Linked DNA regions of Homo sapiens. The protein of the gene in region 2 interacts with the protein of the main gene of each other region in a biochemical or structural test. Each region holds a gene or a part of one and is shown on either strand. Other genes may lie near its edges.

What was found.
Region 1: the proteins of VPS33B (region 2) and VIPAS39 form a complex in vitro, tested with the Homo sapiens proteins (one study listed by BioGRID).

The regions. Positions count from the first base shown.
Region 1 is NC_000014.9:77,436,872-77,440,791, forward strand, and holds part of VIPAS39 (spermatogenesis-defective protein 39 homolog), read right to left. Parts: intron 1,011-3,920; coding exon 937-1,010; intron 1-936.
Region 2 is NC_000015.10:91,008,719-91,012,638, forward strand, and holds part of VPS33B (vacuolar protein sorting-associated protein 33B), read right to left. Parts: exon of another isoform or gene 3,716-3,920; intron 2,452-3,715; exon of another isoform or gene 1,836-2,451; intron 1,129-1,835; coding exon 1,083-1,128; exon of another isoform or gene 1,073-1,082; coding exon of another isoform or gene 1,067-1,072; intron 259-1,066; coding exon of another isoform or gene 186-258; intron 1-185. UniProt on the Homo sapiens protein: May play a role in vesicle-mediated protein trafficking to lysosomal compartments and in membrane docking/fusion reactions of late endosomes/lysosomes.

The DNA.
Region 1 (3,920 bases), on a different chromosome or scaffold from region 2:
CTGCATTATTCCCCATACTCTGCTCACTCCAGGAAGAATTCTGAGTTTTAATTACACTATTCCAGATAAGTTTTAGCCATAGTGAATTTTTAGAAGAGATAAAGAGAGATGCTATAAATTCTAGTTACTTCACTATTTTAACTTTTCTCCTTGTTTTCCAGAGGCCATATAACATATCTCAGTATTTGGTAACATTAAATGGATTTCACTGATATAATCAAATTTCTAAACATGAAGCCGGGAAATCATGTCACATGAGGAATGGTTGAAACAACCATGAGTACTGAACCTGAAGAAGCAAGGACTACTGGGTAGACTCTACACCTGTCTTGAAAGATACAGGGAAGCAAATTTCAGCTTAACGTAAGGAAGCACTTTCCAATAACGAAGGTTGTTCAAAAACAAACTGAGCTGTTTCAAGAGCAACGGGCATCCTGTCACAGGAATATGTGGAGCTGGGTTTTGCAATAAGTTAAATTCTGGATGAAAGCTTGCCCTGGATCAGTGGTTCTTGGACTTTGGGGTTTCAAGGACCAGTAACACTGAAAAAATGCATCAGGTCCCTAAAGTATTGCTATCTTTTTATTACCTAAGGTCATAAAAAAAGGTACAGCTCATTTTAGTACCAAAGAAGAAGAGAAGAGTGAGGACAAAATCCTACAATAAAAGATAACCTTTCAAATTAAATAAATTTAGCTTTAGGAAAAAAAATCTCTCTACATTTGTCTTTTTTTTTCCTCAGTTTACCATCAAGCAGTGGAAACTCTGCTGGGGACTAGTGTGTGAACACCACTGCATGAGGTGACCCTGAATGATGCTGGTATGATTCATTGTTAGCCCTCCCCTTCCTGCCTATCCATTCCACCCTTTTTAATTTTCTTCATTCCTTCTGGGTAAAGGTATTTATACTTAAAATCATTTTTCCCCCATACTTACCCAACACAGGTTTTAAGAAATTCTTTTCGTTTGTCAGGGTCCTGAATGTTCAAATGCTCTCGATAATGAGATAGCTACAAAAAGCAGAAAAAGGCTTTGAGGTATTTTGTCTCCTTAGATGAGGGAGATAGCTGATTAACTGAACTTCCCATGCTTTAAAAAAACAAATTCTTCATTTCTGGGTATAGATGGTTATTGGAGGCGGGTGGGGGGATAGGCAAAGAGTGACTAAGTATCATTAGTAGGTTTATCTATAACTGCACTGTACGATACAATAGCCACTAGCTACAACTGTTTCTTTAAATTTAAATTAATTAATGTAAAAATTCACCTCCTTAGTTAACACTAACCACTTTTAAAGAACTCAACAGCTACATGTGACTAGGAGCTACTATATTGGACAACACAAATATGGAAAATTTTTTTTTTTTTTTTTTTGAGACGAAGTCTCACTCTTGTTGCCCAGGCTGGAGTGCAATGGCACAATCTCAGCTCATTGCAACCTCTGCCTCCCAGGTTCAAGCGATTCTCCTGCCTCAGCCTCCCAAGTAGCTGGGATTACAGGTGCCCACCACCATGCCTGGCTAATTTTTGTACTTTTAGTAGAGGCAGGGTTTCACTATGATGGCCAGGCTGGTCTCGAACTCCAGACCTCAGGTGACCTGCCCAACTTGGTCTCCCAGTGTGCTGGGATTACAGGCGTGAGCCACCACGCCCGGCCCAAATATGGAATATTTCTATCATTGTAGAAAGTTCTATTGGCCAGTGCTGACCTATAATGAAGCACTGAGTAGATAGAGTACCAAGCTTTACCTTTAAGTTTCACTTTAGCCTCAGTATTTAACCAAAAATGAATATTTTGCTTCAGCTTTAGATTTTGAAAAGTCCAAGAGCTAAATACCTATTTCAGTGTTATTTTTGGCATCCTTGACCATGTACATGATCAATGGTAGTATGATCATGTAAATATCTAACAATTAACATCAGTAATATAAATAGGGCATGTCATTCTGACTCACTGTTCATAAATATTCTCAGATTGAGCCAACAGATGTATACAAAAATGTAAATGTATATAAAAATGTAAATGTAAAAATGTAAATAACATAAGACAGAATAACAGAAATTACATATCATAATCCAATCTTCGTAAAATAGTTCATATAAAATAGTTGGTATACAATCATTCCTAATATTAAAGAAAGTAACCTTTAAGAGCTATAGTTAATTTTTTGTTATTCAATTCCATTTCATCCTTAGGTCTTTCAAGAAAAGTTCTACATGGGAAACCTTCATATTCTGTGGGCATACACTAAAAGTGTACTATCAGCTTTGCCACTTCCAAAGTTTACAAGGTTGAAAAACTCAAAATCTATATACAACAACATGCATGATAAATCATCTTCAATTCGAACATAATGAGTATAAAGAAAATAAAGTTTTAGATAAAAATGAGTTACCCAAAACACATTTATTCTCACTAATGAAAATCAAAACAAAAAACTTTATAAGAATGCTGTAAGAAGAAAAATCCTTATAGTTTTGAACTTACAGAGATTTAAAAATATAAACAAACAGCTTTTCAAATGATTACTACAGGCTGCCAATCATTTTTAGTTGATTAAGAAAATGGATTTTTCAGATTCTCTCATGCTTTGAATATTAAGTACAAGTTCCTTTCAGAAAACATGTTACTGAGCCAGGTGAGGTGGTTCACATCTGTAATCCCAGAACTTTGGGAGGCCAAGGTGGGAGGATAGCTTGAGGCTAGGAGTTCAAGACCAGCCTGGCAAACAAAGTGAGACCCCCGTCTCTACAAAAAGATTTTTAAAAATTAGTCAGGTGTGGTCGTGTGCACCTGTAGTCCCAGCTACTTGGGAGCCTAAGGCTTGAGCCAGGAATTGAGAGTCTGCAGTAAACTATATGATCACGCACCACTGTACTCCAGCCTGTCTCGAAAAAAAAAAACCATGTTTCTGAAAAGCATTTTCAGTATTATATATATAATTATGCTGTTCAAAGGTTAACAATATTTAATGTGCCAACTGAATGTCTGTATGGATATCACAAATGTGTTGTACAATAACTAAAAAAGCAATCCTGCCATCGACAGTGCTGAGAAATTCTTTGAGACAAGGTCTCATTCTTTCACCCAGACATGACCTCCCAGACTTAAGCGATTCTCCTACCTCAGCTTCCCAGGTAGCTGGGACTACAGGCATGCGCCACCATGCTTTGCTAATTTTTTAAATTTTTTTTTAGAGATGGGATCTCACTATGTTGCCCAGGCTGTTCTCTAACTCCTGGACTCTAGTGTTCCTCCCACCTCAGCCTCCCAAGTGCTGGCATTACAGGCATAAGCTACCGTGCTTGGCTGGAAATTCTTATTCCTGCCAAGTTTTTTTTTTTTTTTTTTAACATGAATTGCTGAAGTTTTAATAATACAACTGAGTTTTTGGTAAAATTTCAGATTTATTCTTGTATTCCAGGAGTTCATTCCATGATTGTGAAAATCTGCCAAAATTTAATCTTAACACCTGGCCATTGAATTCTCAGCCAAAACGTGTATTGGGTGTATCATCAACTTGACCTATCTTCCTTCTTGACCTATATCTGGTTTCTTATCCTCTTAGCCTTCAACATTTTCTTTGTGAGAAGCCAAAACCCCAAAACTCCTAACAACCAGGACCTGAAAACAACCGAAAAACAAATTACAAATTGACCAGGCCAATTTTCACATGTTTATTTTTTAAAATTTATTCATAAGCCCAACCAAAAGAGCATATAAAAAGAAAGAATACATCATTTGGATTAAGTTTTCAGGTTTTCCAGGTGCCTCTCTCTTCTGTATATAATCAATATCAAAGGAAATAGTTCAATCAGTCTGGGATCTTGGAGGCGGGGGTTTGGCTTAGATTTCTGGGTTCGTGAGACAGAGTCTCACTCTGTTGCCCAGGCTGGAGTGCAATGGCACGATCTCAGAT
Region 2 (3,920 bases):
AAACTATTAAATCACGGTTGTGCTCCAAAGAGGTCAAACAGCAAGCTGTGAGCACATATATTAAAGGGATGTAACCACAACTGGGGGTATAGGAAAGACTTCCCTCAAGAAGAGAAAATCAAGCTTAGAATTTGGGTAAGACTCGGGAAGGCAAAAAGCTATAGGGTGGAGAACGTTCTGGGTACCTGGAAAAGCATGGGTAAAGTCTCTCTGGCTGGAGGGTGGCGAGTCAGGAGAAGGAAGCAGCACACGATGAGGCTAATGGGACAGGAGGGGCCAGACTGTGCAAGGGATAGGAGGCATGTTGGGGATTCTGGGCTTTATATTGAGCCGCTGCTATTTCCAGCAGGGAGGGCTGTGATCAGGTTTGGGTTGTGTGGAGAATAGCGGAGGAATACACAGAGGGGAGGCCCAGTTTTTCCTGTGGGAGCCTTGGAAGGTGAGAAAAGAGTGGCTGGTCATTTCCAACTCTAAGCCCTGGTGTTCCTTTCATACTACCCCAGGAGTGTTCTTTTCTTATCCTTTCTTTTCCCTCCCTCCCTCTCTCTCTTTCTCTCTTTTCTTTTATTTTCTTTCTCTCTCTCTTTCTTTCTTCCTTCCTTCCTTTCTCTGAGTCTCACTCTTGTTGCCCAGGCTGGAGTGCAATGGCGTGATCTCGGCTCACTGCAACCTCTGCCTCCCGGGTTCAAGCAATTCTTCTGCCTCAGCCTCCCGAGTAGCTGGGATTACAAGCGTGCGCCATCACGCCCAGCTAATTATTGTATTTTTAGTAGAGATGGGGTTTCACCATGTTGCCCAGGCTGGACTCAAACTCCTGACCTCAGGTGATCCACCCCCTCGGCCTCCCAAAGTGCTGGGATTACAGGCATGAGCCACTGCGCCCAGCCCCCAGTAGTGTTCTAATTCGTGGTCCTATTCCCATTCCCATTCTCAGGAACCTCTCCTCCTGCTACACTAACAGGAATAAGACCAGGAAAAGAAGGAGCTGGTGGTGGGGGTGGGGTGGGGGGGTTGGAGAACAACAACAGTTTTTTCTTCTGTATGTTCTCTTTCCCTTTCCACTCACATTCATCTCCTCTCACCTCCATAGATTCCCTCTTCCTCAAGCACCATCTCACACGCATAGAACTGAAAGAGAAAAGGAAATTGATTAGTAACTACCTTCTTCTCTGTTCTCTCCATTTCTCTGGAGTTCCTCTGTGGTCACTGATGAGGACAATAATTGCCGAACCCAGTGAAAGACAAGAGAACCCAGACTCTTAAGATCTAGAAAGAACCATTAGAATCATTCAGCCCAGCACTTCAGTTCTTTCTCATCCATTTAATTTATGTTTGAGTAAATTGCTTCTTATCTCCCTGAGAGAATGGAAGAGGTTTACAAAGGAGAAGGAGTTCAGCTGTCTTCAAAAGGTAAGTTGTACAGACAGAGATGAGAGCAATGGCATGAAGTGCTCTGGAAATTGTGGAGGAGCAGATGGGAGGAAAAGATCTGTACAAGGGAGAGTGAGTTCTGTTTAGGACATGCCCACGGGACCTTGGGAGACACAGACAAGGACTTGGGATTAAGTAGCATATATGCTGTATTTAAAGTGGATGATGTGGCTGGGTGCACTGGCTCACTCCTATAATCCCAGAACTTTGGAAGGCCGAGGCAGGTGAATCGCTTGAGCCCAGAAGTTCTAGACCAGTCTGGGCAACATAGTGACACCCCATCTCTACAAAACAATGCAAAAATTAGCTGGGCATGGTGGTGTGTGCCTGTAGTCCAGTTACTCAGGAGGCTGAGGTGGGAGGATCACTTGAGCCCAGGAGGTCAAGGCTGCACTGAGCTGAGATTGTGCCACTGCACTCCAGCCTGGGCAACAGAGTGAGGCCCTGTCTCAAATAAATAAATAAAGTAGATGGTCTGTCCAAGAGAAAAGAACACGCAGAGGAGAGCTAAGGACAGGACTCTAGGGAACACAAGATGAAAGGGGGCCAGAGTACAGGACCTGGCAGGGAAGACTGAGAAAGAATACTCAGAGAAGCAGGGGCAGGAGAAAACAGCAACAGTCAAGGCAGGAAAGGTGAGAGTTGCAAGGAAGGGTGGGCAACAGTGTCAAATGCCAGGGAAGTTAAGTAGGATTAACATTAAATAGACACCAGTGGATTTGACAACGGAGACCTGAGGGAGACTAGATGAAACGATGAAGGTGGAGATGAGGAAGCAGAAGCAGTGACAATAGAACATTCTTCACAGAAGCCTGGCCCTGAAAGAAGGGGGAGCTCTGAAAGGGAAAAGAGATGAAATGGGAGACATTGTTTAGAAGGCATAGACATGGGTGAAGGCAGAAGAGAAAGTCTACCTGGTAAAGCAAGATAATGGAGAAGGAAAGCAGAAATGGGGCCAAGAACTGGCATGGAACAGCTCATCTTAGGAGGGAAAAGGCCACGATCTCTTCCTCCTTTGAGGTAAGTGGGGAAAGGGTGAATATTTTAAAGTAATGAGAAAGAATGCTGAGGGCACTCACATCTGATAATGAGTTGACATTATTAACAGCTAATGTTGTAAGCCCTTAAAATGGTTTAGGCATTGTTCTTAGTGTTTTACAGGAATCACTTGTCTTCATCTTCATACTAGCTCTGTGAGATGTAGATCAATGCTACGTGCTCCTTATTTTACTGTTACACAGAAGAATCCTATTCCTCCCTCACTCATTTCTGCCAGGAAAACTGAAATCTTCAGGCCTGCTTTTAACTTTTAATGCTAAGTAATGGAATTCCAGAGCCAGGTCTGAAAACTGCCAATCTTCATAATTAACAAAGGAGTCTCAAAGAAGAGAGAGAGATGCCTCCTAATATAAAATTAGGTCAAAGAATTTGATTAGATAAGGTGTTAAGTGGAGAACACTCATAAAAATAACTATTTTGTTTTTCTGTGTAATAGAGAGGCTTGTAGGATTATTTTAACTTGTAGGATTATTCCCTGTTAATACAAATCTGTCCTTGGCCAGGCGCAGTGGCTCATGCCTGTAATCCTAGCACTCTGGGAGGCAGAGGTGGGCAGATTGCCTGAGCTCAGGAATTTGAGACCAGCTTGGGCAATATGGCAAAACCCCACCTCTTTTAAAAATATAAAAAATTAGCCACGCACGGTGGTGCACATCTGTAGTCCCAGCTACTCGGGAAGCTGAGGCAGGAGAATTGCTTGAACCTGGGAGGCGGAGGTTGCAGTGAGTCGAGATTGCGGCACTGCACTCCAGTCTGGGTGACAGAGCAATGCACTGTCTCCAAAAACAAAACAAAACAAAACAAAACAAAACAAGACAAGACAAAACACCAAAGCTGTCCTTGGAAGCATAATTTGAAAAGAAAAAAAAAAAAAAGGTTTGTAAGAGTCCAAGAACTAGAAATTATTGCCATGACTCCTTTAGTAACATTCAAAAGTACCTATAATTCTGAGTGGTTGTCCTACTCAATAATTTCTTGCCCTGGTAATAATACTTCACGTTTGTATTCCTAAGCATATTATCCTAAGATAAATATTTGTAAGATTGTGCTATCAATGTTCAGGTGACATTCAAAGGAAGGTCACTGGCTCTTTCCTCTTATTCCTTTTACAGAAGGAGAAAACAATATAAGCCTAGGGTCCCACTTGATTTCTTATTTCAACAGAGACTCAAAGTCATCTCACTTAAATTAAAAGATAAGTACTATTATCAACTCTATCTTCCAGATGAGAAAACCGAGACACGGAGCAGCTCAGTACCTAACCCAAGACCACACAGGTAATAAGGCCTCAAGGGTGGATTTTATCCAGACAGCCTGGTTTCAGAGGCTTCAGTCCTTAGTTACTGCCTCTATTTTCTCTAGAATTTTCTTAGAAAGATTGAAAAGGAATAAATCCCTGTTCTTCCTAGTCTAGCTTCTACCTTCTGTAA